Regions from separate parts of the Homo sapiens genome. Here region 1 is linked to region 2. Evidence: fine-mapped expression QTL. A gene starts in region 2. The other region holds a variant in brackets. All regions are shown on one strand. Distances are between the middles of the regions.

Region 1 (14,253 bases), 25 kb before region 2:
AGCCACATGGCAGGGGCTGTGGAGTTGAAATGGAGGGTCCTGCTGGGTGGGGACGCTGGTGCAGGGCATCCTCTGCCCCAGACCGTGCCTGTTGGGTCACACACTACGCCCCACCCACTGGCAGCCAGGAGTGGAGCAGCCTCAGCAGGGAAGGGCTCATCTGAGCCGATGGTCGATGCCAGGCTCAAGCTGGGCCCTGTAGAGGCTTCAACATCAGACTCTCCCTGCCAGTTTCTGGCCCAGCCACTGCCAGGGAGACCAGAGGGCAAGGTGCTTGCCTGGTGGAGGTCTGGGGAGTCAGAGAGTTGGCCAAGGTGGCCCCCATTGCACGCCCAGGGCGCCTGCTCTTCAGCACGCCAGCAGCCCCTCCAGCTCTCGGCACCATCCTCCCGCTCACTTGCCAGCCAGCCTCAGCCGACACTGGGAGTGGATCAGGGGCCTGCTCGCCTCCCAGAGGGCTGTGGAGTCTCCTGGGGTACAGGTGTGAGAACCCGAGGTGCCAGGCAGGAACAGGCCCGGGGTGGGGGGCACCTGTGGTGTGGGTGCCCAGCAGCGTCTGGGTGTCCGGAAAGGAAGGCCGGTGCAGCCAGAGGGCTTTGCCTGTGTCCAGCTCTCAGGCTGGTGGCCAGGTGGCCACAGGCTGACCTTGCTACTAGCTCACCTCCAAGCCAACATCTGCGTCCTTGCCTTGGGTGGGGAAATGGGGGGCCTCTAGCAGATGGCCCAGAGCCTGCTTCCTGGAGAGTGGCTCTGGCAGGGATAGGGCTAGCCACCAGGTGGGCAACACGCATTGGGTGCAGACCTGAGGAGTTAATCAGGAAGGGAGGTAGGCGTGTGTGCCCTACCAGCTGAGCACCCTGGCAATCCTGCAGCTCTGCAGTGGACACCCTGCGGTCCATGCTACTCCGCAGCGGCAGCGAGGATGTGGTACAGCGCATGGACCTGGAGGGAGGCTGGGAACTGCTCAGGACCTCGGCGGGGCATGAGGAGGGGGCCACCAGGTTGGCCAGGTGAGCGGGCCCAGCCCACTGCAGCTCCAGCACTGGCTGGGCTCCACCGGATCTCGAGCCCAGAACATGACAGGATCAGGCGGGGGCCCATGCGTGTCAGGCCAATGGTGCCCTGGGCTCCTGCCTGTTCACTCTCTGGGGCAGGGGTAGGGAGGCACCCCTGCAGAGGCCTGGCGAGGCAAGCTGGGAGGCATCTCTGAAACATAGAACTCCCAGAACCTGGCAGCTGGCGGTGGAGCGGACCAGGGCTGTGCAGGGTGGAAGGTGCCTGGGTAGGGTTCAGCACAGCAACAGCCCCTGCACCCTCAGCGGCCCCCTTTCCCAGGGCCATGGCTGAGCACGCAGGGCCCCGACTCCCCCTGGTGCTGAAGACGCTGGCATGCACACACAGCAGTGCGTATGAGAACCAGAGGGTGACCACCACCGCCTTCCTGGCCGAGGTAGGCCCTTCCAGGGACGGATGCTGGGCACCAAGGTGGGGCTCCTGCTCAGGACAGGCACGGGATGCCCTTTTCTTACCCCTAAAAGGCCCCCTCGACCGTGGTCTGTGAGGGAGGTTATGTGGATGCTAGCTACCTCCTCCCCCATGCCAGAACTCACTCAGTCCCACCCAGGGACACCCCCTCTGTGCCTGGTGAGAGGAGGACCGAGGCTCCCTGCAGCCTGTACTCTCCCCAAGTCCAGCTGGGTACATTTGTAGCTGGACAGGGCTGGCCCCTGGGACCCCAGGTGCCCTTGGTGGTGTGGTCTTGGCCTTCGTGGCCAAAGATGCCAAAATCTTGCCCAAGGCCGTGCAGCAGAGCACAGCGGGCGTCAGAGCAGGCCCCAGCGGCACAACAGGGAGGGGTCGCCACTGATCGGAGACCCAGGGAGTAGGTGCTCCACCTCTGTCTGCCACACCGGCGTGGGGACAGCCTCTGGTGTTCTGGGCCTGGGCTGGTGGGTTGAGCCCTGGGGTCAGCGGGGAGAGGGAAGTCACAGCACCTCTGCCTGCAGCTGCTGAACAGCAACGTGGCCAACGACCTCATGCTCTTGGACTCGCTGCTGGAGAGCCTGGCGGCTCGCCAGAAGGACACATGCGCCAGCGTGCGGAGGCTGGTGCTCCGCGGCCTGGCCAACCTGGCCTCCGGCTGCCCTGACAAGGTGGGGTGGCCACCAGCCCCTCTGGGTCCCAGGCAGCATGGGTGGGGGGCTGTGCATGGAGGCCACCCTGTCTTGTGGGGTAGCAGACGGTGACTCTGGGACCCAGGCTGAGTGTAAGGTATCCTCAGGTGCGAACCCACGGCCCCCAGCTCCTCACAGCCATGATTGGCGGGCTGGACGACGGGGACAACCCTCACAGCCCAGTGGCCCTGGAGGCCATGCTGGGCCTTGCGAGGCTGGTGCACCTGGTGGAGTCCTGGGACCTGCGCTCAGGGCTGCTGCACGTGGCCATCCGCATCCGGCCTTTCTTCGACAGTGTAGGCTGGTTGGGGCAGGGGGAGGGAAGAGGGCCCCAGCCCTTCCTGCCTCTTACTCTGAGCTTTAGCCCCAGCCCCACCCTCCTCCCTGTCTCCCACCTCGGCTAGGTGACCGTGGAGAGCGCGGACCTGCAGGGCTGCTGCTTTGCTGGGCCTGGCAGCCCCCACCCGTAAGGCCCCCACCCGTCGGGGTGTTTCCTGGCCCGGGTCAGGCAAGGGCACCCATCAATGGCAGGGGGCTAGGCAGGCAGGCCTGCAGGGGCACAGCCTGTGAGGAGACGTATGCTGCATGTCCTTCCCAGGAGAAGATGGAGTTCCGGACGGCATCTATCCGCCTCTTTGGGCACCTTAACAAGGTCTGCCACGGAGACTGTGAGGACGTCTTCCTGGACCAGGTGGTGGGCGGGCTGGCGCCCCTGCTGCTGCACCTGCAGGACCCTCAGGCCACCGTGGCCAGCGTGAGTAGCCAGGGGGTGAGTGGGATGGGGTGGGTGGCCTCAACTGGACTTGGCCCCAGTGCCGCATCCCTTAGGCCTGCAGGTTTGCCCTGCGCATGTGTGGCCCCAATCTGGCATGTGAGGAGCTCTCAGCTGCTTTCCAGAAACACCTGCAGGAGGGCCGAGCCCTGCACTTCGGGGAGTTCCTCAACACCACCTGCAAGCACCTGGTGAGGGGTGGGGCCAGGCGGGGCGTGGTGGGTGGGGCGGGGCCAGGCGGCACTGACCAGGCCTCTCCCCAGATGCACCATTTCCCAGACCTGCTGGGCCGTCTCCTGACCACCTGCCTGTTCTACTTCAAGAGCAGCTGGGAGAACGTCCGAGCTGCTGCACCCCTGTTCACCGGTAAGCACCACCCCCTGCCCCACCCCCACGCCGCCCGGCAGCCCCGCCTGATGCCCCCACTTCACAGGGTTCCTGGTGCTGCACTCGGAGCCCAGGCAGCAGCCGCAGGTGGACCTGGACCAGCTCATTGCGGGTGAGCACCCCTCCACGGGGCCCCTCCGCTGGGCCCTGCTGACCCTGTAGGCACCCGCAGGGACTAAGTGATTTTCCTGGATTTCAGGACTTTTTCCCTGTCACTGGTGACCTCATCGTCTCTAGTAATTCACGGAAACTTCTTAACTGTTCCAAAAGAGCTTAAAAAACACTAAAAAAGGAAAAACGATCTTTCCGTTGGCTCCTGAGCCTCCCAGCAGAGGCTGTCAGGAGAGCGTGGCCCACGCGCAGGCATGGGCATGCCGAGGTCACAGCCCGCAGGCAGCCCCCCTCCTCTACCCCCAGCGCTCCAGATCCTGCTGAAGGACCCGGCCCCCGAGGTGCGGACGAGGGCTGCTGAGGCCCTGGGCCGCCTGGTGAAGCTCGCCTAAGGCTCCGGCCAGCACCCCCAGCGAGGAGTATGCACCCAGACCTGTGCCTGAGCTCCAAGACAGGGCCTCCTGAGGACCACAGCCTGGGCACACGACTGGAGGGGCCTGGCCCCAGAACAGGCACTGCTGGGGACCAAACCCAAGCCCTTCAGTGAGGGATGTGCCCAATAAACTCATCTGCTCCCAGCGAGTGACTGACAGGGTGCGATGCTGAGCCTCTTAGGGGATGGGCCAGAGGGTGCCCTGGACTGGCTGTGTTGTCCCCACTGTTTTTGCAAAATTGAGTGAGGGGAAGGCTCGGCGCTGTGGTGGGGGCGGCTTTGTTGGCAACCCCAATTCAAGAAGGTGGGAGCACCAGGCAGCACAGGGTAAAGGCTCTGTTGACTTCAGCACGACCACCCCAGCCCCAGGCAGGCAGAACAGCTAGGTGAAGAGGCGGACAGTCCCGTCTGCCCCCGAGGAGAAGACCCACGGCTGGGTGGGGTGGAAGATGACGTCCAGCACTCCCAGATCTCGGGTCAGCACGTGTCCCTTCAGCACCTTGACGGGCACCAGCAAGGGGTTCTGCAGAAGGTCACTGTGGGGACGAGGAGGGCTCAGGGCACGGCCAGACACCACTGCCCTGGGGAGGGGGCCAGGCAGGGTCAGCACTCACTTGTACACCATGCCATGGCAGACGATGACACTGCCGTCGTCCGAGCCTGACGCAAAGAGTGGGTACCGCGGGTGGAAGGCCACAGCCCGCAGAGCCTTCTTGTGGTGTCTGGGGGGAGGGAACCAGGTTGAAGGCAGGCTCGGGCTGAAGGGAGGGGCTCTGCTGGCCGCCTCCACCCCCAGCTTTCCTCACCTCAGCATCCTGTATGGCTTGGTGGAAAGATCCAGGTCAAACCACACCAGCTTGCTATCGTAGCTCCCACAGATGACGTTGTCACCTAGGGCCAAAGGCTGTGATGCAGGTGTTCCCGCTCTCACCTGCAGGGTGCACTGCCCTGCCCGTCACCTACACCCCTCACCTGCAGGGTGCACTGCCCCTACCCCCACCCCTCACCTGCAGGGTACACCGCCCCCCCCCCCACCCCTCACCTGCAGGGTGCACCGCCCCCACCCCTCACCTGCAGGGTGCACCGCCAGGCTGGACACCCACTTGCAGTTGGGCATCAGCTTCTTGGTGAGCTCCTGGCGCAGCAGGTGGTAGAGGCGGACGCTGCGCTGGGACGCCACCAACAGGAAGGGCCGGGCAGGGTGGAAGGCCACTCGCTGCACCTGTCCGTGGCTGCGGCGGAACGGACTCTGGCTGCGGCGACGGCTCAGCTGGTGAATCAGCACCTGGGTGTGGCCTTGGGTGGCCAGCACCACGGCCAGGTAGTCCCCACGCCCGTGCCAGGTCACCTGCGTCACTGGCTGCAGGAGAGCAAGGCTGGCTGAGTGGCTGAGCC[G/A]GGCCCCTCCCGCTGCAGCCTCACCCCCAAGGCGCCCCACGTACCTTCCCGTGGCAGATGCGCAGCCGCAGGCCCACTTGGCGCTCCTCCTCTGAGGCCTCCAGCCAGCGGGCCGGCTGCAAGGGGGGCTCCTCAGGCGGGACGAAGGCGCTCAACAGCTGATCTGTGCTGCCCGCCACCAGCCGGTCCCCCAGAGCTGGGTTCAGCAGCAGCACCGAGTCCTCCCTGTGAGCCAGGCCCAGACACGGCCCCTAAGCACAGTGCCACCCCTGGCTCCCCAGCCCCCAGGGCCTCCACTTACACGGCTGCAGCCACCAGGCAGACAGCGGGGCTGGGGTTCCAGGCCACACTCTTCACCACGCCCCCCACGGGAACAGTCCTCACACAGCGGGCAGTGGCCACCTCCCAGAGCCGCAGGGAGCCGTCGTCAGAGCCTGGATGCGGCAGAGACAGCTCTCAACACCTGGCCATCCCACCTGCCCCCCAGCTCAAGGCTGCCCCCAGCTCGGACCCACCTGAAACCAGCCACTGGCCCCCAGGAGAGACACTGAGGCACCGGACAAGGTCACTGTGGCCCCTGTAGACCTGAGGAGGCGGCGGCAGTGAGGAGTCAGACTGGGAGGGTGCAACCCCAGCCCCCTAGTCTCCACTTACCAGGGCCTGGCACGTGGGGAAGGGCTGCAGGTCCCTCGGCCGAGGCAGCTTGGGGATGAGGTCCTCAGGGTCTACATTCACCTGGGGCAGGAGAGCGCCAGGTCAGCCTTGCCCCCTGTGCCACCCCCCTGGTGTGCCACCCCCACACACCCTCATCTTGCGCTGCCGTGGGCACAGGTACAGGTCAAGGCAGCGCTCGAAGCGTTCCTGGATGAAGCGTCCGTAGGCAGGCACGGCCCGCAGGCTCGGGAACTTGCGTGGCAAAAAGCTCAGCTTCCTCTCGCCTGGCTCCTGCTGTTCCCACGCCAAGCGCTGTGGAGACCAAGACACAGGGGTGGGGAGGGTCACAGGGAAGCATGGGGACAGGGTCCCGGCCCCCAGGATGCAGGCCCACCTCCTCCTCGCTGAGCAGGTATTCAGGGGGTGGGTTGTACGACTCGGCGTGGCCTGGCAGGGCCAGCTTGGGAGCAGGTACGTGCATCTTGTGGCGCCCGAGCACGGCGTTGGGGTCCTCCTGGGCCCACAGGTCATAGAAGCTGGGGGTGGGGTCTCGGGGCCGGCGAGGCTGGATCCAGCCCATCTTGATGGCGTGCACCATGCGAGAGACCTGCATAGACAGCCGGGTCAGGACGGGCAGTGCGGGGCGGTCAGCCCAGGCCAAGCCCCAGGGGCTGTGTGCCCCACCTTCTCCTTCTCCACCAGGGAGGGGATGAAGCTGCGCTTGTCGGCCGGGCGGTTGGTCACCGGGTGGATCATGACGTCCCCGCTGAAGAAGTCGACAGCCGGCTGGGGGAGAAGATGTGGGCGTGTGGGCCAGAGTGGCTGAGGCCCTGCTGGTGCCTCCAGGACCCCCGCCGCCCAGGGGCCAGCCCCTGCCACCTACCTCATAGGGGTTGAAGCCCACATCCCCAAACTGGCCACTCTGCAGCCGCCGCACCAGGGCCACCTGCTCATCCGTCAGTCTCAGGTCCCGCCCTGTCATCGGGTCCTGCACGGTGCGCCTGGAGACCGCCAGTCAGACCCCGCCAGCCCTGCCCCACCCCTCGGGCCCACCCCGGCTGCTGGCCCCACCCCACCAGCCCTCACCAGTAGTCAGGATCGTCCATCTTGTCCAGGAACTGGTCCAGCTCATCCCGGGTCCGCAGGGGCTTGTAGATGCGCCTGCCATCCAGGTCGTAGCCCACGTGGGGGAAGTCATCGTACCACTCCAAGGGCACGTTGCCCACCGTGTTCCGGATGTCCTGCAGCCGGGGGCCACCATGTCGGCATCTGATCCTACAAGGCCCACCCCCGCTTCGGGCCGCCCAGGGGAGCAGGTGAGGGGGTTGCAGGGGGAGTGCAGGCCCAGCCTCAAGTGCCCTGAGGTCACTGGCCCTGACCTACGCCTGTTCCCCAGCCCTGGGGTCTGACGTGGCATGGCGGCCACGCTGCCCCCACCCCCGCCCTCGGAGGCGCCGGAGCTGCACCTTCACATTTTCCACTGAAGTGGTGCCAACCCCAGAGCTCCCCCCTCACTGGATTCCTTGGCCAGGGCTCTGGGCAGCCACAGACAGGGATGACCTCATCACCCACGGGCTCCCTCCCCTGGCAGGGGCCTTAGGCAGAAGTGGGCAGCTATAAGACGGGGACTCGGGGAAGACCCCAACTGACCCATTCCACAGAGAGGCAGAAGCCAAGACCTCTCTGTGGGGGACCCCCCACCGTCTGCCCTCGGCCCCTCCCCAGGCAGAACAGCCACGTTCCTGGACGTACATTCCTGGTTGCAGCCCCTGCCAGCCGCCACCCTCGCTCCTTCCAGCCTGGGGACCGCTGCCCAGGAGGCTGCTTCCTGCAACAGTAGCCACGGGGAGGGGCCCAGGCAAGACAGAGCACAGCTGGGAGCCTGCCGGGCCCCCTGCTGCAGGAGGGACCCCTTGGGCCCTGCCCCCTGCTGAGGGTCCTTCCCTCTCCTCCCCATGGAGATAGGGGGCCATCCCCAAATTGGATAATGGGGGTATGTGTGTGCTTCCTGAGGGGCCTGGTGGCCCTGGAGAGGAACGGGGGAAGGAGGAAGGGGCAAGGAGACCGACGGGGTGAGAGGTCCACACAGCACAAGAACAGGGGACATGGCCAGCTAGCAGAAGGCACAGTCTGTGCCAAGCCTGGAGAGGCAGGTGCAGGACAGACAGGCGGAGAGACTGAGCTCTAGGCCCCTAAATACTCGCCTGTGCCCGCCCCCTGCACACGGCCTGGCACAGGCAGGCGCTGGCGCACATGGGAGGCAAAGACAGACAGGGTGCGGTCAGGCAGCAGGGCCAGGGCGGCTGGGTTAACTCAGTTGTGCCACGGGAGAAAACGGGGTGGTGGGTTCCTCCCCTCTCCCGGGGACGGGGGGCACTGCAGTTTTGGGGCCCTGAGTAACTACAGCCCAGAAGCGACCTCCCAGTTCCTCCGCATCCCCAGAGACGGAACGATGCCCCCAAAGACCAGCCCCGCCCCCCCCACCCCCGCCAAAGCGTGGCCACAGAAGGCCGAGGGACGCGGCGGGCGCTGCTCGAGGAGCCTCCGGGCTGAGAGGGGCGGGGCGTGCGCGGGGGAGGGGCCGGGACGCCGCTATAAAGGCGCAGCTCGGGGCCCCGCTCCGGCCCGGGACGCACATGTGCGCGCGACGCCCGGCAGCTGCCACCGCGGGGCGCAGCCGAGACCCCGCGCCTCGCCCCGGCCGGCCCGCGAGGCCCGCGGCGGCCGCAGGAGGCGGCATGAGCAGCGCGCGACAGAGCTGACGCCGCGCCCCCGCCGGCCCCATGTCCTTCGCCACGCTGCGCCCGGCGCCGCCGGGCCGCTACCTGTACCCCGAGGTGAGCCCGCTGTCGGAGGACGAGGACCGCGGCAGCGACAGCTCGGGCTCCGACGAGAAACCCTGTCGCGTGCACGCGGCGCGCTGCGGCCTCCAGGGCGCCCGGCGGAGGGCGGGGGGCCGGCGGGCCGGGGGCGGGGGGCCAGGGGGCCGGCCAGGCCGTGAGCCCCGGCAGCGGCACACGGCGAACGCGCGCGAGCGAGACCGCACCAACAGCGTGAACACGGCCTTCACGGCGCTGCGCACGCTGATCCCCACCGAGCCCGCCGACCGCAAGCTCTCCAAGATTGAGACGCTGCGCCTGGCCTCCAGCTACATCTCGCACCTGGGCAACGTGCTGCTGGCGGGCGAGGCCTGCGGCGACGGACAGCCCTGCCACTCCGGGCCCGCCTTCTTCCACGCGGCGCGCGCCGGCAGCCCCCCGCCGCCGCCCCCGCCGCCTCCCGCCCGCGACGGCGAGAACACCCAGCCCAAACAGATCTGCACCTTCTGCCTCAGCAACCAGAGAAAGTTGGTGAGCACGGGCCGTGGGGCGCCGAGGGGGGCCTCCAACGCGCCCCTCAGCCCACACCTGCCAGGCAGAGGAGGCGAGGCCACACGGGCAGGGCTCCCCAACAGGGCACAGGCAGGCACACCTGTAACACAGGCCTGCCGGGGGCTGGGGCCTTCTCCTGGGGCTCCTCTCCAGGGCGTCCCTAGGACACTCGGCTCCCAGTGGAGTGTGGAGTCCCCTGCAGGGAGCTGCATGAGGGGTAAGAGCTAGGGATGGCCAAAGGGGCCCACCCAGGGCGGGGAGGCTGGGGAGCTGGACCAGGCCGCTGCAAGCTTCCCTTTTCAGTAAGTTGAAAGGCGGAGTGAAAACAGCTGAGTTCAGAAAGTAAGAGGCTGCAAGGCAAGAGAGGAAGGACCCCGGGTTCTTAGCCCCTGCGGCCCAGCACTGGCTTAAGCCATCTTGGGCACCTGCTGTCCGTCCCCCACCTAGGCCGCACACCAAGACACCAGGTCCTGTAGGGCTGCCCGAGACGTGGGCCATGGGACACGAAGGCAGAGGCTGGCAGGAGATGTGGGGGCTGGGGGTGAGGGCCCCTGCAGGAGACGCTGGCCAGCTGTGATTTACAGCTCCTGCTGTGCTTGGTGGCACCGGAAAAGCAGGGTGAGCAGGGAGAAAATACGGCACGGCTTTTCCCAATCCCCATTTCCTCTCCAGACAGCACGCGCGAGCTCCTGGGGCCTGAACATCTGGGAAATTTAATTTTACAATTTCGGCTGTGCAGCAGTATGCTCCCCTCCCCAAAACGCTTGAGGGAAGCTGGGGAGAGCCGGGAAGGAGGTGCCTTGGCGCTGGCCACCTGAGATGGCACCCAGCAGGGAGGCCAGAGAGGCGCAGACTGGCGCTGGGCTCTGCCGGGGCCTGACACTCCTCCCTCCCCTCTGCAGAGCAAGGACCGCGACAGAAAGACAGCGATTCGCAGTTAGGAGGTGGCCGGCAGCAGCCAGGAGGCAGACGCTGCTGGGGGAGGTGGACGCCCGGGGTGACTGCAGACAGCCCCCACCTTGGACCTGAGCTGGGCAAGGCCCACCGCAAGCATGCCCCCAGGCCAGCCCTGGCTGCGAGCGGGGCCGAGGGACAGACGGACGTACAGACAGGCGCCGGCAGCGGGACTCTGCGCTGGCCCCAGCACCTGCCCGGGCCCACTGGAACTTTCTGCGCTGGCTTTTCTTCCGGCCACTGTGTGATGGCATCTTGTGTTTTTGATATGATAATATAAAGTCTGAAAATTTTGTATAATTAAAAACAAAACAGTATCTTCCAAATATGGAGGCCAACTGTCCTCATGAAAGGTTCAGAATCCACCCCCAGCCCCCAGCCTGAGCCTCCATTCCCACCCTTGGTGGTCCCATCCTCCTTGGGCCAAGTACCCCGGCTCCCTGGGAAGCCCCCACTTTCCAGGCTCAGGGCCACCCCTCCCTGGGCTGAGGCGGTGAGGATGGGCTTAGCTCACCCACAGAGCCTCATATCGGGAAGCTGTGGGGTGGGGACAAGGGAGCCACGCCGGGAGAGAGGGTGGGGGAGGAGCTGCGTGGCAGAAGATGGGGAGGGCGAGGCACAAGGCAGGGACGCTGTAAGGCAGGGACAGGGAGGCAGCGGCAGGGACAGAGGCAGCAGCAGGGCAAGGGTGCCCCCGACTCGGGCCTGTCGGGCACCCGGGGGCCCTGAGGGTGAGGAGGGCGCTGCAGGTGGCCACAAGGAGTGGAGCGAGCTGTGCTGCCCAGCGGAGGGGGGGGCTCCCAGCCCCAGCGAGGGCAGTGGGTGTCCTGCCTCCACGAGCCTTGACTGGAGAGAGGGGCATCTCCTCATGCACCAGTGCCACTTGGCCCCTGGAAGCACTGCCCACGTGGGAAGGAGGACCCCTGGCCATCCTCCTCCCACCACCACGGCCCATCCAGCCCCCTGAAGACCCCGCCCACCACAGGAGGTGGGTTTAGCCCCCACAGTGCTCTGTGCACAGCTGGCTGGCCATTAAAACCCTGCAGGTGACAATTACCATTGAGTGGTGTGAGATCAGTGGGCACAGAGAGAAGAAGGGCGGTGCTGTGTGGACCACCTCCCCCCAACCCTGCCAGGCCACAGCCTAACTTCCGGCTGGGTGGACAATGGCTGATGGTGCCAGGTGCGGGCGTCAGGGCGGCGGCCGGCCCCAGTTCCCCGCTAGCACAGGCAGGGACGCACCCTCGGGGGGAGACCAGGTGCTGTGGCCCACGTGGGCATCGGTGCAGGGCTGGCCCAGGACTGCCCCTCCTCTGCAAAGACAGGCTCCAGGGAATGGCGGAGCAGGAAGCAGTGGTGTAATTTTGGAGGAAATTCTCAAAGCCAGAGCCATTAAGGGCTAGAGGGGGGCTGAGTCCAATCTGATAGAAATATAACAGGATAAAAAGTCACAACGGCAGGTTTCGTTCAGAGAGAAACCCAACCCCAAATTTCCTCTCCCTAATCCTGCAGGAGCCCACAGCTGGCCAGAGGGAGGGGAGGAGAGGACAAGCTCAGTCACTGCAGAAGCCTCCGCCCGCCGGGAAGCCAGGGCCCGGGGGACACGGACATGCAGCTAGGGGCTGACGCAGCCCCTTCCCTTCTTGGGAGCTTTCCTCACACCCCCGCCCCGCCACCCTCCCAGGCACCAAGGCGCTGGTGAGTGAGGAGCAGGGTGGACCCAGGAGCATGGCCAGGCCGGGCACTCTGCATAGCACCCTAAGGCCCACGGCGCCCACGCCAGCCCTCCCTCCACTGGGCACTGGGTGTAGTTCTGTAGGGAGGGTCCATAGCCCACCTACCCCTCACCTCCAGGCCTCCCATTTCCAGACCTGGGCCTAGTGGGGGTTGCAAACCTCCACATGAACCCCCAACCTCAGTGGCCGGTCAACGTTGGGGACAAATGGGATGGAAGATAGTGAAAGTCTCCAGGGCAGGGACATCAGGGGCTGCTGGCCTGAGCGGGCAGGTGCGGGGCGTCGGCGGCCGGCACCAAGGACAGGGCAGAGCCAGCTCAGAGCGGGAATGCAGGAGGCCAGACAGGAGCAGGTGGGAAGGTGCGGGCCAGCATGGGGAGGTCTGGGCAGGGTCAAGAGGGAGTGCAGGGGAAAGAGACGTCAGAGCCCCCGTGGACTGGGGTCAGAGTTTGGGGTGTCTAACGAGGCTAGAAGAAAGTGAACAGGGAACAACGACCTGGAGGCCTCGGAGCTGAAAGGATCCCCAGGGCCCTGCTGGTTGGGGTGCAGCACTCACAGCCAAGCCCTCCGCTGCGGGCCTGACTCCGACCGCGGCTGCAGCTTGGCCAGCCTCAGGCCTGGGCAGCCAGCCCAGCCGCTCCCTGAGCTGCACCGGTAGCAGCGGCCGAGGGCCCGGCCCGCCAGCCAGCAAGAGGGGAGGGGCGGGGGAGGAACACTCCGTCACCCTCCACTGCTCCAGAAATTCAAACCAGACCGGGGGTGGCGTGGGCTGACCCCCAGGCCTGCGGCAGCCCACCCGAATCCACTCGTAGCTCACAGCCGCCGGGCAGACGAGTGGCAGGTGCTCCCTGCCCACCACAGCCCCTGGCTCCCTTCCCAGAGTGCTGGCCTCACCTCCACAGAGACCCAGGGCTCCCTCCGCCTGTGCCCCACAGAGGCAGCTGGGACGGAAGGGGCCCCAGCCTGCACCCTGGGCCAGCAGCCGCCCCTGCGAGCCGAGCTGGGCTGGAAACGCTCTGCTGGGCCTCAGCTGTCAGCTCCTGTCCCCGGCCTGGGGAACGAGCTGCTGGCGGGACACATGATTCATCACGGTCGCCTGCGCCCACCACCCGCCCCGCCCAGCGCAGCACCTGCGGGCTGCCAGGAAACACATGTGACCCCTCCGGGTCAGGCCCCGCACGGAGAGCCCCGGCCGGCCGGCCGGGGGCACACACAGACCCAGCATCAGGGCTCTCCTGGGGGCCGCCCAGCCCCAAGGACAGGCCCCCAGCCCAGACTGCACCGGACACAGGCCGCAACCGGCTGATGTGTCGGCTGGGATTTTTCCGCTCTCGATGAGCCCCCTTCCCTCCCCCTCCCCAAAGTGGCTGCAGCTGTCAGGACCACAGATTGGAACTGCAGGTATGGGGCTGGCCCGCTGCCCGCCTCCTCCCGTGTCTGTCTGCGAGAGAGGAAGCCGGCCCACCTCTGGAATCCTTCACTCTCTCCTCGTTCCGCCTCTCCCACCTGTCCCCCGGGAGCGTGGGGTCAGCCGCCCTCGCTCCGTCTCTCTCTTCCCCAGCCCCTCTCCGATTACAATGCGGGTAGTGTTCAGCGTTCGCGCCGCTCCCCTGCACAAAACGCCCGCCTGTCTCGGAGCGCCACACGGCCTTCCTGTGCGACGTGAGGCCGCCTCCTCTTCCTCAGGGTTTTATCTGTTGAAGTGCTCAGGGCAAGGCCAGGGCGGGAGGCTCACCTGCTGCATCTCACCCTACTGAAGGTTCCAGCAGGGGTGCTGGGCCCTGGCGCCGGGGCCAGAGGGGAGAAAGCCAGGTCCTGCTTAGTCTCCTCCTCCTCAAAGTCCAAACCAGCTGAGCGAACCCCCAGCCCAAGGTGGGGCCCCAGGCAGGAGGAGCCACCAGCCCAGACGCCCTCAGCTCCGGCCCGGCTCCCGCCAACCACGCATCTGCCCTTCTAGAGGCTGGGCACACAGCTCGGCCTTCTCCCGGCACCTCCACCACTGGAGAGAAGCCACTACTGACCCAGGGGTCCTTGCACCTCCACAGCTGGGAGGGCAGCAAGTCACCTCCTGGGGGTCTGCAGGCTGGAGAGAAGCCACTACCGACCCAGGGGTTCCTCCAGACCTGGCCTGCCTCGGTCTCTGCTGGGGCTGACCCAGGGACAATAGCTGTTCCCAGGCAGAGCACCCCAACGCCTGGCATCTCATAAGCAGGGGCTCCCAGAAACCAGGATGCTAGGGGTGGGGCACAGGCTTGGGGCATGACAC
Region 2 (15,955 bases):
GTGCTGCTGGAGAGGGGACAGGAAGCGAGGCACAGGCCGGCAGGAGGCAGCTTCCTCCCTGGCTGGTCAGTGGAGGGCTGGGAGCACCCGTGTCAGGGGTGCTGCAGGGCAGGGAGCACACAGCCCAGGGCGCCCCTCCAGTGGGATGGCTCGCAGACACAGTCAACAGCTGGAAGGGCAGGGGCTGCAGAAAGTCCCAGGGAGTAGGAACCAGGCCAGGAGACAGAACTCGTGGGTCATCAGGTGGCACAGAACGCAATTAAGAGGCAGGACTGCCAGGCCCAAGGCAGGGAGGCTGGAGATGGGGTGGGCCCTGGGGTGAGGCTGGCCCACCAAGCTCGTGCCAGAGCAGGTGGACCCAGAAAGAGGGGTCACTGTAGCAGGGACGCAAAGGGTGGGGAAGGGATGCCTGCCCTCAAACCACACAAACACAAAAATAAATCAAACCCACTGGCCCCAAGGAGGCTACTAGCAACAGCTGTGGGCCCTGCCGTGGCCCACAGATACCCCAGGGAAGGAAGGGGGAGGTACAGCACCCACCCCATCTTCTTGGGCCCTGTCCCTGTCCTCATCCCTATCCTCTGACCACCCCCCAGACACAGAGTACCCTTCTTCACCTTCACTCCTGAGCTCCTCATGCCAACAGTCAGGGGAGGAGCTGCAAAGGGCACAGCCAGACCCTGCTCCTTGAGTGCACCTCACAAAACACCAGGACTCCTGACCCCAGAAACACAGACAGCAAATGCTCGTTGTTGAAAGGCACTATGGTGGCCAGGTGCGGTGGCTCACGCCTGTAATCCCAGCACTTTGGGAGGCCAAGGCAGGTGGATTACCTGAGGTCAGGAGTTCAAGACCAGCCTGGCCAACATGGTGACACTCCCTCTCTACTAAAAATACAAAAAAAAAAAAAATTACCCGAGCGTGGTGGCTGGCATCTGTAATCCCAGCTACTCAGGAGGTTGAGGCACGAGAATCGCTTGAACCCAGGAGGCAGAAGTTGCAGTGAGCCGAGATTGTGCCACTGCACTCCAGCCTGGGCGATAAGAGCAAAAAAACTCCATCTCAAAAAAAAAAAAAAAAAAAAAAAAGAAAGGCTCCATGGTTTGGGGCAGTTTGTTGTGGTGCCAGATAACAAAACAAACAAACAGAGAGAAAACAGCAAAGGGCTCCTGGCCCAGGGAGCTCAGACCAAAATGACAAGAACCAGCTAGCTGTCCTGCCCTTGGGCAACAGCCATGAGGGTTTCCAGCCAGCTAAGTGCATGGATGATGCCGCCACAGGGAAGAGACAGAAGGGCTTCCGGGACTGGGACCACGGGCACGCACCGCCATGCCTGGCTCATTTTTTAAATTTTCTGTAAAAATGGGGTCTCATTATATGGCACAGGCTGGTCTTGAACTCCTGGGCTCAAGAGATCCACCTGCCTTGGCCTCCCAAAGTGCTGGGATTACAGGTGTGAGCCACTGGGCCCAGCCTGTGACTCATTCTTTTTATTTTTATTTTTTCAGTTAAGCCCAGCTGTGCGAGCCTCATTCTTAATGAAAGAAAAACATCACTAAACAAGAGGAAAAGATGAAGCAGCAACACCATGAGGGAGGCTGGTGGTGGGAAAGCAGCTGAGGGGCGGCTGCAGTAGTGCATGGCATCACCGCCTAGCGGAGGGACGCTCCAAGCACCTTCACAATTAAATGCATTGATGGCCAGGTGCGGCGGCTCACGCCTGTCATCCCAGCACTTCAGGAGGCCAAGACAGGTGGATTACCTGAGGTCAGGAGTTCGAGACCAGCTCAGCCAACATGGTGAAACCCGTCTCTCCTAAAAATACAGACATTAGCCGGGCGTGATGACGGGCGCCTGTAATCCCGGCTACTCAGGAGGCTGAGGCGGGAGAATCACTTGAACCCAGGAGGTGGAGGTTGCAGTGAGCCGAGATTGCACCACCGTACTCCAGCCTGGGCGACAGAGCGAGACTCTGTCTCAAAAAACAAAACAAAACAAAACAAAACAAAACTAGCCAGGCATGGTGGCGGGGACCCTGTAGTCCCAGCTACCAGGGAGGCTGAGGTAGGAGGATCCCTTGAGCCCAGGAAGTTGAGATTTTGGTGAGCCAACATCGCACCACTGCCCTCCAGCCTGAGTGACAGAGTGAGACCCTGTCTCAAACAAAAAAAAGCATTTATCCTTTGACCTAGAAATTCTCTTGGAATTTTCCCCAAGAATGGTGTGCACATGTGAGAAACAGCATGTTACTGTCAGGTCAACTGTAAGAGCAAAAGCCTGCAACTGCCCACCCACTGGAGCTGTTGAGGCCGAGCTGCCAGGCACTCTACGGGCACCAAGCACTGTACAAACCAGAGCCATGGCCTCCCTGACAGAACCATCCTGAGACAGCGCACGGCTGCCCCTTCTCTTAAGAAACCACCATTCAAAAACTCTGTGCGAGTTTGGATATGTCTAGAACATCCTGGAAAGAGACTTCAGCACTGGAAACAGTAGTTGCCTGGATGCAGCAACAGGAGCCAGGAGGGAAGGGTAGGAGACTCGTTCCCTGGCACACCCCTCAGGAGCACCTGAGCATCCAAAGGTGCCCTAGAACACCACGTGCAGCTGCTCACTGAATGCCACGTAATTCTACACAGTCCTTAGAAAGGAGGCAGGGTCGTGTGCATGTCAATGCTAAAGGCCTGAGGGCAGAAAGCCAGAGGGAAGCCTGTGGCCCGGCCCTGCAGCCAGAAGCACGCCCACCCTGGGTCCACCCAGGCAGGTCCGGAGCCCTTGGCAGGTCGCCAGGTCTCCACAGGGGCCGCCAGCAGCTGACCCCCAGCAGTCACCGGGCTCCCCGCTACAAGGGCCTCCCACTGTGGGGCTCTCCGCAGGACGCCCCGGGCCGGTCTGGGTTGGTTTGGGGCACACACTTGGAATCAGATTTATGGAGGAGGCTCTCTGAAGGTGACCCATCAGCCACATCGCTGCCAGGATGGCAGAGATGAACAAAAGCCGCAGCTCCCTCCCATGCCAGTCACACAGCCCCTTCTTCACAGCACCATCGGGGCCGGGTATACCCACCAAGGGCTAGGCGGCCTGGGGAGTGAGGCCCTCGCCCTGCCTGACTTCGTGTGTCCCTGAGGTGTCCGTGACATGACACATGCATGCTGCCTGATGCCCAGCCCCATCCCGCCACTGTTCCAGTCTGATGTGATGCTGTGGCTGGGATGTCCTTCAGATGCACGAGGCAGAGGCCACAGGGGCCACGTCTTGCCAACCACTGTGGAGGAAACAGCGACAGGAGGGAGTGGGGGGACAGGCAGAAGCACGTGGCAGAAGAGAAATTAGCAAAAACATCATCTCGTCCTTCAGGGGCTGCCAGGCAGACATTACCCTCACTTACCAAGTAACCCACCGAGGCCCATGAACCATCTGCAAGACCACACGAGTGGCCGTGGCCAGGACCACAGAATCCCAGGTGCGCCCACTGCAGGGCAAGGACACTTAGCAGCAGGAGAAGCTGCTGTGTCACTGTGGTGTGAATTCCCAGAACCAAGGGGCACTGATTCTAGAAGCCGCTCAACGGAAGGGTTCTTGGGTTGAGGACCCACAACCACTGGCAGGGGCATCGGGGGCAGAATCCTCCAGATGGCTGTGGCGGGCGAGGGTGTCTGGCAGAGCCCCTGGTGGCCCGGCCCCGTGGACCCACGATGCGAGTGGGAGGTGGCGGAGATACAGGCGTAAGGAGCCCTGGACTGCCTTCGGGATGACACAGAAACAGGCCTAACCTGAGGCCACTAACTGGGCATGACGGGGCCATCTTGGCGGCACTCTGGGAGGCCTCACGTGGCCACGCTCATGGAAGCCAAGAGAACATGCAGGAGGCAGCACTGGGCTGCCGGCTGAGTTTCCACCTGCAGGGCTGCACAATGGGAAAGGACTCCCACCATTCAAGAGGGGCGCGGAGGGCAGGCAGGAGGGAGTGGCCGCTCAGCAGGCCAAGGTGCCTGGGTGGCTTCTGATGAACAGGGGGGAAAAGGGAGGGGTTCCCACTAAGAAGCTGAAAGCACCCCCACCTCATCAATTCATTCTCCTGACCTGGAAGAATTTAAACCCAGTCATGAGGATCACACTTTAGAACTGAAAACACCCTGACAGGGCCCAAGGTGCCCCTCAGCTAAAGCACAGGACACGCGGGCAGATGCACGGGCGCCATGGCAGGGCAGGGCCTCAGCCCCTCAGCTAAAGCACAGGACACGCGGGCAGGTGCATGGGCGCCACGGCAGGGCAGGGCCTCGGCCCCTCAGCTAAAGCACAGGACACGCGGGCAGGTGCATGGGCGCCACGGCAGGGCAGGGCCTCGGCCCCTCAGCTAAAGCACAGGACACGCGGGCAGGTGCATGGGCGCCACGGCAGGGCAGGGCCTCGGCCTCCCAGCTAAAGCACAGGACACGCGGGCAGATGCACGGGCGCCATGGCAGGGCAGGGCCTCGGCCCCTCAGCTAAAGCACAGGACACGCGGGCAGGTGCATGAGCGCCACAACAGGGCAGGGCCTCAGGCAGGGACTTGGGCAGCCAGCAGCGTGGGGAACTCTGAGGACCGCCCCACCAGCCCGGCCGGCCTTGCCACCTCAGGCCCTGCTGGATGACGGAGCACACAGACCACAGACAGCGGTACTTTGGAAAACACCCTGCATGGGGCAGCCAGTTACGCGGTCACAGAAACCCGAGCAGGGCAATGGGCAGGACAAGCACACACTCAGCAGTGCAGAGGACCTGGTGCTCCAGGGGCCAGGAGACAAGCAGCGAGAAGAGAAGATGGCGCCTCCCTAGACTCCGCAGACACCTCTAGTACCTTTCAAGTACTTGGATATGTTATTATGCGAAAACATTGTTTTGGTTTTTGAGGCAGAGCCTCACTCTGTCACCCAGACTGGAGTGCAGTGGTGAGATCTCGGCTCACTGCAACCTCCGCCTCCCAGGTTCAAGTGATTCTAACGCCTCAGCCTCCCGAGTAGCTGGGATTACAGGCACGCGCCACCACGCCCAGCTAATTTTTATATTTTTAGTAGAGACAGGGTTTCACCATGTTAGCCAGGCTGGTCTTGAACTCCTGAGCTCAGGTGATCCATCCACCTTAGCCTCCCAAAGTGCTGGGATTACAGGCGTGAGCCACCACGCCCGCTGAAAGAATTTAATAAAAAAATCATTAACATGTAAATGTGTAAATCCTTAATTTAAAAAGGGACAGAAGACCCAGAAAGATGTACACCAGACCACTAACTGTGCTCACGGGTTAGGTGTGAGGGCCCTGAGTGGGAGCTTCCACCCTACTGAATGGTGCTGCTACAATATCTACATTATTTTCCAGGATGTTTTATCTCATAATTTTTTTTTGAAACAGGGTCTTGCTTGTCACCCAGGCTGGAGTGCAGTGGCTCTATCATAGCTCACTGTGACCTGGATTCCTGGGCTCAGGAGATCCTCCCACTTTGGCCTCTCGAGCTGCTGGGATTACAGGTATGAGCCACTGTGCCTGGCCCAGTATTGTATCATTTTAAAAACTCAAGAAGGGGTAACGTAGTTGTCCATAATCTTACAAACCACTGCCAACACAGCACATCATTTTTTCTCTGTGTATGTTAGTGGTATAATTAAAGCCTGAATTAAGTGTGATTTTAAATCTTTTCTTCCCAGCAAACAAGCCAACCCAACACAGCTAGCACACAATGAACAAGCCATGGTTCCTTGGCTTCTATCACGGGGACCTCTGCCAAGGCCGTAACTTCCAGAACACCGAAACTACTGGGAGAGTAAATCCTTACAAACGATTTCCAGAATGTTTAGAGTAACAAATGCTGGGCTGGGCGCGGTGGCTCACACCTGTAATCCCAGCACTTTGGGAGGCCAAGGCAGGCAGATCACTTGAGGTCAGGAGTTCGAGACCAGCCTGGCCAACATGGTGAAACCCCGTCACTACTAAACATACAAAAAAAAATTAGCCGAGCCTGGTAGTGGGCACCTGTAATCCCAGCTACTCAGGAGGCTGAGACAGGAGAATTGTTTGAACCCAGGAGGTGGAAGATGCAGTGAGCCAAGATCGCCCCACTGCACTCCAGCCTGGGCAACAGAGCAAGACTCTGTCTTAGAAAAAAAAAAAAAAAATAGGCCGGGCGTGGTGGCTCACCTGAGGTCAGGAAATCGAGACCAGCCTGGCCAACACGGCAAAACCCTGTCTCTACTAAAAGTACAAAAATTAGCCGGGCGTGATGGCATGTACCTGTAATCCCAGCTACTAGAGAGGCTGAGGCAGGAGAATTACTTGAACCCAGGGGATGGAGGTTGCAGTGAGCCAAGATCACACCACTGCACTCCAGCCTGGGCGACAGAGTGAGACTCTGTCTCAAAAAAATAAAAAATAAAAAAAAATAACAAATGCTGTGTTTTAGTTAAATTATGCTTTTCTCCTGTTGTTCTCAATAAGAGTAGGGTGCATCCTCCCCCACCATCGCTGCAACAGGTACAATGTTAAACCCTCTACCCGTCGGCTGCTCAGGCCCCTGAAGCCCTGTGGGGTCAGGCCCAGCTGGGTTCCGTTGGGGCCCCCATGCCGCCTGCTTGAGCCCTGCCATGCTGCTCAGCTCCCTCCTCAGCTGGGTCCTGCCACTGGATTCCAAGCAGTAAAATCCCCACCTCAAGGAAACCCAACCTGTTGCCAGGAGGGTTGCCCGAGCATCGTCTGACGGGGAAGGGCCTAGGCATGTGGATTTTCAGAGTTCCTGGGAACGGCACGCAACTGGGGATGGAAACCAGCGTCCTAGAGCCCAAGCGTGCCCCAGGTGCAGTGAAGGAGGGACGCCGGCCTTGGGGTTCTGAGGGACGGTGGAGAAGGCAGTACAGTGGCAGTCTCAGAAAGCCCAAGGCCACCTGCACATGGGGGACAGCCCTCGAGGGGGCTCCTCGCTCACCCACCTGCACCTGCTCCTCAGTGGTCTTTTTAATCCCACTGTGGCCCTCGTCATCAAGGGCTCCGTCCTCTCCCTCCTCGTCGCCTTCGTCATCATCCTCACTGCTGTCACTGCCGGAATCTTCCAGGCCTGAGAACACACTTTCCTCGCTGTCGGAGACGCCAGAATCGCTGCCGGTGCTGTGGCTGAGAGGAGAGGTGCAGAGGAGGGGGGGCTGCAAGGAAACACTGGGTTGGTGACAACTGCCCCTCCAGGCATGGGGCACTGAACACTGCAGGGAGAGCTGCCTCTCGCCCCTCCAGCCACCCACCAGCAGCTCCATGTGGCCTCCAGGACCACACCCCTCCAGTCACAAACTTCCACCAAAAGCATCCACCCAACCTGAGCCTTCCTCATCTTCTACCTCCACTGACAAGACAGCCTCTTGCCTTTGCCATCGACATTTTAATTCCTAGCACCTCACAGGGAAGGGGCTTTTCAAGGACAACCTCCTCCTCTTGGAGCTCAGCTCTCATCGCAAAACTAACACTGCTCTCTACCACCCACTGACACTCCGGAGGCCCTGTGGGGTCAGGCTGGGCTGGACTCCACTGGGTCCCTCAGACAGCCTGCCTGAGCCCTCTCCACACCTCACCCTGGCATCCAAGGCCCCAGAGCCAAGAGGTCACTAGAAAAGGGGCTGGGGGCTGGAAGAGAAATGGGTCCCCAAAGGGCTTTTACCACCTGAAGCAGACGCCTCCTCATTTAACCAGATTGGGACCAACGATTGATCAGTAAATTGAAAGGATTGGCTGAAGAGTCACAGGAATGATAGAGACTCTAACCGCAACCACGCACCAACCCACCCACTCCTCTCTCTGAGCAGGACCACAGCTGCCTCTGAGCAGAGCCCTGCTGGCTGCGTGACACCGGCACACACAGTGTTCGGGTCCTTCACTGGCCTTAAAGGGTGGAACAAGAACTTAGACTCTTAGGAAGCAGTTGAAGGCCAGGCACAGTGGCTCACTCCTGTAATCCCAACACTTTGGGAGGCTGAGGCGGGTGGATCACCTGAGGTCAGGAGTTCAAGACCAGCCTGGCCAACATGGTGAAACCATCTCTACTAAAAATACAAAAATTAGCTGGTGGTGGCGGGCACCTCTAATCCCAGCTACTCAGGAGGCTGAGTTAGCCAGGAGGTGGAAGCTGCAGTGAGCCAAGACTGCACCACTGCACTCTAGCCTGGGCAACAGAGCCAGGCTCTGTCTCAAAAAAAAAAAAAAGAAAAAAGAAAGAAAAGGAAAAGAAAAGAAAAAGGAAGCAGTTGAATGCAGAATTCTAGATTTTACTGTTTTCCTAATAGTTTACAAGTCTCACTTAAGGTACGACCTGCATGTATTAGCTATTGCATACCGAGTGTTCACACAATGCCTCTCTCACACAGAGTCATGATGTGTCTTGGTATTCAGTCGGCTACACAATCACAATAACTAGTGGAAATGGCATCCGTGGCCTGGGCGCAAACAACTGGCTCCTGAGGACCGTTTAGTCCAAGGGTGGAAGTCGCAGAACCTGGCGCCTAGAGTGGCCTGCGGGCCATTCAGCCCATGGGAGCCAGGATGAGTTGAATTCGCTTCACAAAGCAATGGGGCAGTTTCAACAACCCAGCGCGGCCGCGGCCGAGGGGGCTGTGAGGGGCTGGCTGTCCATCCCCTCCACCACCCAATTTGATGATCCCCACAACCAAGACAGGGCTGAGCTAGCAGAGAGCAACAGTGAGTTCTAATACAGCAAATGCAGCAGACACTGGGTTCTATTCAGGTTTTCTTATTCTCATGTCTATCCCATGAGCATAAAAACGCAATTAACTAGCGTATACGTAGGTTAAGCATTTACTGGGAGCGCAAGCCGAGCCCTTTTATTGGCAGGATGCACAAATGGAACGGCTGGAGAGGCTGCTGCAAGGGGCGCCCCGTCCCCACTCCCCGCTCCCCCGTTTCTTTGCTTCCCGGACGCCGTCCTTTACCCCGCAGTCCGCTCTGCCTGAGACCCCCCGATAGAGGAGCTGCACCCACGCCCAAGACCGATTCACTGGGCGCGGGCGCCCAGGTGACAGAAGCCGGGCCCACCCGCCCCAGCGCGGCCACGTGCCCGCCGGGCCCTCTAGGGACGCGCCCCGCCGCCCCGCATCGCCACAGTCACCTCCGGCTCGGGCTCAGGCTCCAGTTCGGGCTCAGACCGCCGCTTCTCCGGCCGCACGCTCGGCGCCGCCGTGCGCCCCGCACCCCGCGAACCCGCCATGCCCCACCGCGCGCCGGCCGCCACCCGCACAGCCGCTTCCGACAGCGACCGGGCCGCGTGCGCAGGAGGACGCGCCCCGCCCAGCCCGGCCCCGATTGGCGGGTGGAGGGAAGGGGGTGGGACCAACACGCGCAGGCGCGCGGCTGGGCCGGGGACCAGGGCGGGGTCGGGGCCTGCGTGCTCGCGCCGGGGGTGACGCGGGAGGGCGGCAGCGGCGGCGGCGGGAGCGCGCCCGTTGCAAGATGGCGGCGGCCATGCTGGGCCCCGGGGCTGTGTGTGCGCAGCGGGCGGCGGCGCGGCCCGGAAGGCTGGCGCGGCGACGGCGTTAGCCCGGCCCTCGGCCCCTCTTTGCGGCCGCTCCCTCCGCCTATTCCCTCCTTGCTCGAGATGGATCTGCCCGTGGGCCCCGGCGCGGCGGGGCCCAGCAACGTCCCGGCCTTCCTGACCAAGCTGTGGACCCTCGTGAGCGACCCGGACACCGACGCGCTCATCTGCTGGAGCCCGGTGAGGGCAGCGCGCGGGCGCGGGGCCCGTGGGGACCGGGAGGGAGCAGGGCCGCGGCGGACGGCGCGGGAGGGCTGCGGGGAGGGGCCCTGCCGCACTTCAGCTTACGCGCGGTGAGCCTGCCCTGCCCCCGCCAGAGAAGGGCGGCGGGTCCCGAGCCTGCTCAGACCCAGAGCCTTAAGTTGGGAAAGCGGCTACGAGACCCACACTCGGTTCAACCCCTGCCCCAGCGAAGTTTCCCTGGGATGGGGAGAATGGGGCGTCTCTTGTATTGGGCTTCTGCTAACTGTTGGGCGGTTGCGGAAGTGTCCGCGCTTAGGGCAAGCACCCGGCTTCGCCAGCGGACGCTATGCCCCAGAGGACATCGGCGTCCCCAGGGGACAGCCTACGGGGTGCTGGGTCGGCAACTATTAGGAGAAAGTCAGGACTTGGCACGTGAAGTGGAGGGCGTTGCTGTAGTGGAACAGGAAAGGCAGTGGAAACAGTAAGACGTCATGAAGCTTCAGGTTGATCTCAAGCCCGTTTCCGAATCCCAAATCTGGGTTTCCCAAGAGGAGTTTTGTTTTTCATTCCTTATGGGGCATCTTTATTCGTGTTTCTGTCTTCAGTTGCCTGGCAGCAGGCTTGTTTACATGGTCCGACCCTGCAAGACCGGACAGCTCCGGTTTGCAGAAGTAAATCAGTGATTGTCTGGAGTTGGAGATCAGAATCTGCTGTTCACATCCCGGCTGTGACGTCGTGTCCGGTGAGGGGCAGAGCCACCGCCTGCGGCTGGCAAGTGATGACCTGAAGAAGGGCCACACTGGCCGAGTGGGGTGACTCTTGCTTGTAATCCCAGCACTTTGGGAGGCGGAGGCGGGTGGATCACTTGAGGCCAGGAGTTCGAGACCAGCCCGGACAATATGGCAAAACCCCAGCTCTACTAAAAATACAAAAAATTTGCCGGGCGTGGTGGTGCTTGCCTGTGGTCTTAGCTACTTGGGAGGCTGAGATAGGAGGACTCCCTGGACCTGGGAGGCAGAGGTTGCACTGAACCAAGATCCCGCCACTGCAGCCTGGCAAAGAGTGAGACCCTGTCTAAGAAAAAAAAGAAAAAAAAGAAAGGCCACTGATCATTGGGAGCTTTTGGAGGCACCGTGACCGGCAGGGTGCCACCAAGCATGTGTGGCCTCCCAGGAGCTAAGACCCCAGAGTTCTTCAGGCTCTGCTGAGTGCCTCCCATTTGCACAGCCTCTTTATGCTGTTAGGAATGAAGAAAAGTCTAAACTGAAGCTGCCCCAGGCAGGAGGCCAGGTTTTCTGCTTCTTGGGTTTACTGAGGCTCTGCTTTACCTACAGAGTGTTTGGAAATAAAGAGAAGACTGGAAATCTTTGCTCTTGTTAGAAACACTTTGTGTTTGTCCCGCTGACACCTCTGTGTTGGCCTTCCCATCCCCAGGTCCCATTAAGGCACAGTGCACCTTCCTGGAGGCTGGCTTCATTTCACCATCTCTTCATTCTAGACCTTGGATTCTTGTGCAAAGGAAATACTCCCATGTTTCTGTCTTCTTTTATCCGTCTTTTTCTTTTTTCTTTTTTTTTTTTTTAGACCGAGTCTTGCTCTGTCACCCAGGTTGGAGTGCAGTGGTGCGATCTCGGCTCACTGCGACCTCCACCTCCCGGGTTCAAGCAATTCTGCCTCAGCCTCCCGAGTAGCCAGGACTACAGGTGCGTGCTGCCACACCCGGCTGATTGTTGTATTTTTAGTAGAGACGGGGTTTCACCACATTGGACAGGCTGGTCTGGAACTCCTGACCTCAAGTTATCCACCCGCCTTGGCCTCCCAAAGTGCTGGGATTACTGGTGTGAGCCACTGCACCCAGCCCTTCTTCTTTTTCTTATTCCCCTTAATCCTCAGAAGTTAAGGGGAATAACTCCCCCATTGGGGGAGGGGCATCCGCGATTATCTGGGATATTCTAAGCTTAATCCTACTAGCGTGATCTGTCCTGTCCCGTAATCTGCTTGCTGTTTCTGCTTAAAGATTATGAGGCATGTGGGTTAGGGCCCAGTGTACCCTTTTTTGGGACCGAGGCATGTTCTGGGCAGGGCTTTTGAGCAAGGAAGGCAGGTGTGATGAGGCCCGTGGCCAGCCTCCACTCCACTCACAGGTGCACCACCTGTGGATCTGTTCTCCCTGGGGAGGGATGGGGAGCCAACTGGAATGTGAGTGTTTGGTTCCACCTGGTCAGTATGAAGTGGCAATGGTTGGTGCAGGACGTAGCACTGGGGGCGAGCATGGCAATGAGACAGAAACACTGACTTAAAACTGGAAGGAAGCCCTTCTCCAGGCCGCGCAGGGGGCTGCAGAGCTTTCCGGCGCTGGCTGCCTGGCCTGGAGAAAGGAGGTGATCATCCCATCCTGTGACTTTGAGAGCACTCACACAAGCCCTGAGGACTCCCTGTCAGCAGAGTCCCAACAGGGCACCCTCCCACAAATCTACTGCCCAGGCCCAGCTGGCTCTCGGAGGCCTTGAGAAGGCCCTGGTGCTCTTGCTCTCTGCTGCCTTCTCTGGGAGAGTCTCCTTCTGGCTCAGAGTCTTACCACCATTCTGCCAAGAAAAACCCTCCCTATTTGACACAAGAAGATGAGGCAGAATCACAGGCATGGTGACTAACTCTCAAGGCTGAATAACCTGGGGGAGACCGAGGCCCAGAAACTGGCCAGTAACTTTACTGAGCCTGGCCAGGAATGGGACCAGGTCTGGACCACCATTGCACGTCCCCTCCCTGGCCTGAGATCAGGACTCCCACTGCAGCCACTGGAGGCAGAATGCCGGGTCACTGCCCAGGAGACCCCATTGGTGGGGACTGTGGCAGCTACCCCATCCCTGTGTTGTTTGATTTCCCACCCCCCCCTCCCAAGACCCTCATTCCCATGAGCACCCCACCCACACAGGCAAGGGCCTTGAGGGGACCCAGCAAGTCGTGGAGGACAGCACAGCCTTGGAGAGGAAATGTGTCAGCCACAAGGTTATGATCCCGGGGATCCACATAAGAGCATGGGCGTGCACGTGGGTGGTCCTCCCTCAGCCAGCTTCTCAACAGCTTCTCCCAAAGGTACACCTGGATCCAGTACCACTGAGACCCAAAGACGGGGTTGGGGGACTGAATACCTGGACTGACAGGCACCTCCATAGAACTGAGACCCATGAGACCCGGGACCCGCAGCCTCCCTGCCCCGTGCCCTGGTGCCGGCCCTCAGCCCAGCTTCCTCGTCTGCATGCAGCAGCTCCTCTGTCCACCAGCAGAGGCTCTTCTAGGGCCTTGCTGGGCTGCAGCTGACTCAGGAGGGCAACAGCCTCTTCAGAGAATTTGACAGCATGGAGAACCAAACAAAAGCAGAAAGTGAAGCCTCAGAACTGGGTTCACCATCATCCCAGTTTTTTACAAGCTATGATTTTGTCCCATCTTTATTAACAAGATAAGGAAGTATGAAAAGTAATCTCGACATCTGAGATGGTGAGATTACAGCCCCAGGAGCCACCCAGCTGGCTGAGGAGCCTGAGAACAAGGCACAGCCACATGACCTGTGCCAGACAAATGCTAGAATGATGGTCACGCAGGTTAGAACGAACCCAGGTAGACGGAGGCCTCAGGATCAGGGTGAGGCCAGAGGGGGCACCTGGGTGCAAAATTTAAGGAAGCACTTTTTGTTTTTTAGATAAGGTCTCGCTCTGTTGCCCAGGCTGGAGTGCAGGGCTATGATTGCAGCTCGCTGCAGCCTCTGCCTCCCAGGCTCAAGTGATCCAGTCACCTCAGCTGAGTCACTGGGACTACAGGCTTGCACCACCAGACCTGGCTTTTTTTTTTTTTTCTTTTTAAGGTTTTAGTAGAGACAGGGTCTCGCCGTATTGCCCAAGCTAGTCTGGAACTCACGGGCTCAAGCCATCCTCCCATCTCAGCCTCCCGAAGTGCTGGGATTACAGGCTTGAGCCACCGCGCCTGGCCCTGAGGCATTCCTTTTTAAGACCTACCTGCATTCGGATGGCGCTGGGAGTGGGGGCCTCCTTAGATGTGGGCTCCTGGATGCTTCTCTGTCTTCACCTGGCCCCAGCCTCATGGGTGCAGCTGGAAAGACTCTAGAAGGATGTGCTGAAACCCTGGGGCTCCCTGAGACTGAGTGAGCTGGAGGTCACCAAGGCCCTCGGCCTATCGCGGGAGAGAGTTCCATTGAAAGCCAGTGGTCAGGTGGCCGCTGTGGAGGGTCTCTGGGTGGACAATTGGGAGCAGAGTGGTCCCTGCAGTGAGGCAGGGGGCAGGGCCTGAGGGGTCCCTGAAGTAAGGCAGGGCAGGGCGTCCACTCATAAGCACACGAGGAGTTGCAGAAGCAGAGCCGACCTGGCCACGCTCAGTCACTCAGACCCTGGTCACAGATCGTGTCCGGAGCTCCCACGGCAGGCAGGGCCACCCCTGCTTCCCTGGTTCTGAGAGCCGCCAAGACCCAGCAGGCCCACTGGCCCCACCCTGGAAGATCTGGTATTTGGCCCAAGATGCTGGAGGCCCCACAGCAGCAGCTGTGAGAAGTGCTGCAGGGTCTGGAGGGCCTGATGTGTGCCCGGACCATAGTGCCTCCTGGTGTGGCCATAAGAAGGCACACAGCTGGGGCTGGTCGTGGTGGCTCACGCCTGTAATCCCAGCACTTTGGGAGGCTGAGGTGGGCGGATCACGAGATCAGGAGGTCAGGAGATTGAGACCATCCTGGCTAACATGGTGAAACCCCGTCTATATTAAAAAATACAAAAAACTAGCTGGACGTGGTGGTGGGTGCCTGTAGTCCCAGCTACTTGCGAGGCTGAGGCAGGAGAACGGCGTGAACCCAGGAGGCGGGGCTTGCAGTGAGCTGAGATCGCGCCATTGCACTCCAGCCTGGGTGACAGAGCGGGACTCCATCTCAAAAAAAAAAAAAAAGAAGGCACACATCTGTCCTCATACAGCTTCTGTGCATAGCACAGAAAAAATTAAAAAGGCTCTGTGCTGTAGCCTCCTGTGTTTCCTCTGCCCCGGATGGTGTGGTGGGGGGGGTGCGGTGAGGAGGGGCCCAGGGCACAGAAGGGCTGAGCTGCAGTGGCCTCCTGGGGGGAGGCAGATGCCTCCGGTGCCCCATGCCCACCCAACTCCACAGGCTAGTGTTTGCTCAGTCCTTTATTGAGGGACCAGGGATGGACAGCCTGGCCCTGAAAGTCTCTCAGTTTTGGAGGAGTCAGCCTGTGTGCAGGGCGAGCTGGAGAGGGGTCGGTGGGGCTCACAGTGCCTTCCCAGAGGAAGCAAGCAGCTCCCATCGGGTATATTGAGGGCTGTTGGCTCCAGGGTCTCCTCAAGGTCTGGCAGGTGGAGGGGAGGCTGTCTAAGGAAAGGAGGTGGTCCCAAATGTCTCAAGGCACCTGGCAGCAAGGGCTGCTGCTGCCTCAGCCTCCTCCCTGTGACCCTGTGGGCCATGGTGAGCAGCAGTAGCCACCACACTTGTGCACGGCAGCCAGTGACGAGATGTGATGAGAGATGAGGGCGATTGTGCTGCTCTTGGTCCTTGTGTGGCGAGAACACGCTGGAAGCTCCTCCAGAGCGGAAACAAGAAGAGTGTTTATGAGAAAGGTGCGGGTGGCTCAGATGTGGACAGAACCAGACCAGGGAACGGGGCCACAAAGTGAGCCACTTTGTCTGCACCTGCTCGCGCTTCCTGCCTGCCTCACTGCTTCCATGCCCTGACTCCGGTGGTCCCTGCTCCCCACACGTGGGCCACAGCTACTCACACACGCGCTCCCTTTGCTCCTAAAGCCTATACTCCCGGGACCCGGAGAGGGAACAGCCGGCCAGCCGAGCCCAGGAGCCCAGATCACCGGTCAGCAGATACAGCTTTGACTTGGCAGGAGGCTGGAACAAGAGGCTTGTGGCCTGGGCTGTGGGGCCACCTTGTAGAATACGGCACTGTTCACGTTTTGGGCCAGGGAGCCCTTTGAGAAGATACTCAGAGACACAGACACTTTCTATGTAAGGTGTCCCTACAGGCAGGATCTCACACACATTTCAGGTCCTTCACAGTGCTGCAGAAAATGAGGCCACAGGCTCCAAGTTTACTGCAAGCTGCGGGGTTTGCTGACACCTACACTTCTCAGCGTGTGGCATCTCGCACCAGCCAGGGGCCTCCCATTTCCAGTGGCAGGTTTTCGTGATATCCAGTTATG

Direction of the effects. Alleles are on the strand shown, and positions count from the first base shown. SD is a standard deviation of normalised expression in the study named.
For the expression in tibial artery of the gene that starts at base 9,301 in region 2, allele A in region 1 goes with a higher level than allele G (small effect, 0.24 SD a copy in GTEx).

The links.
Region 1: its variant is fine-mapped to the expression of BOP1 in tibial artery (GTEx, PIP 0.94).

What each region holds. Positions count from the first base shown.
Region 1 is chr8:144,257,905-144,272,157 of GRCh38, forward strand. It overlaps MROH1 (maestro heat like repeat family member 1), which reads left to right. Exons shown (of 44, transcript NM_032450.3): 36 at 873-1,010; 37 at 1,336-1,450; 38 at 2,007-2,153; 39 at 2,282-2,470; 40 at 2,773-2,928; 41 at 3,003-3,137; 42 at 3,210-3,312; 43 at 3,380-3,445; 44 at 3,751-4,022. The coding sequence ends at 3,836. BOP1 (BOP1 ribosomal biogenesis factor) reads right to left here. Exons shown (of 16, transcript NM_015201.5): 4 at 7,013-7,167; 5 at 6,810-6,927; 6 at 6,611-6,712; 7 at 6,321-6,533; 8 at 6,077-6,238; 9 at 5,927-6,007; 10 at 5,788-5,857; 11 at 5,574-5,706; 12 at 5,317-5,497; 13 at 4,949-5,237; 14 at 4,684-4,768; 15 at 4,492-4,599; 16 at 4,141-4,413. The coding sequence ends at 4,260. It overlaps SCX (scleraxis bHLH transcription factor), which reads left to right and starts at 8,549. Exons shown (of 2, transcript NM_001080514.3): 1 at 8,549-9,276; 2 at 10,200-10,577. The coding sequence starts at 8,710. The coding sequence ends at 10,238. MIR7112 (microRNA 7112) reads right to left here and starts at 4,833; the gene lies at 4,769-4,833. RefSeq lists silencers at 8,483-8,672, 13,033-13,202 and enhancers at 8,918-9,685, 9,686-10,451, 13,097-13,740, 13,741-14,253. The variant G/A (reference allele first, on the strand shown) is at 5,273.
Region 2 is chr8:144,282,138-144,298,092 of GRCh38, forward strand. It overlaps BOP1 (BOP1 ribosomal biogenesis factor), which reads right to left and starts at 9,301. Exons shown (of 16, transcript NM_015201.5): 1 at 9,135-9,301; 2 at 6,958-7,167. The coding sequence starts at 9,233. It overlaps HSF1 (heat shock transcription factor 1), which reads left to right and starts at 9,467. Exons shown (of 13, transcript NM_005526.4): 1 at 9,467-9,737. The coding sequence starts at 9,621. RefSeq lists silencers at 9,045-9,544, 9,655-9,814 and enhancers at 9,946-10,602, 10,205-10,264.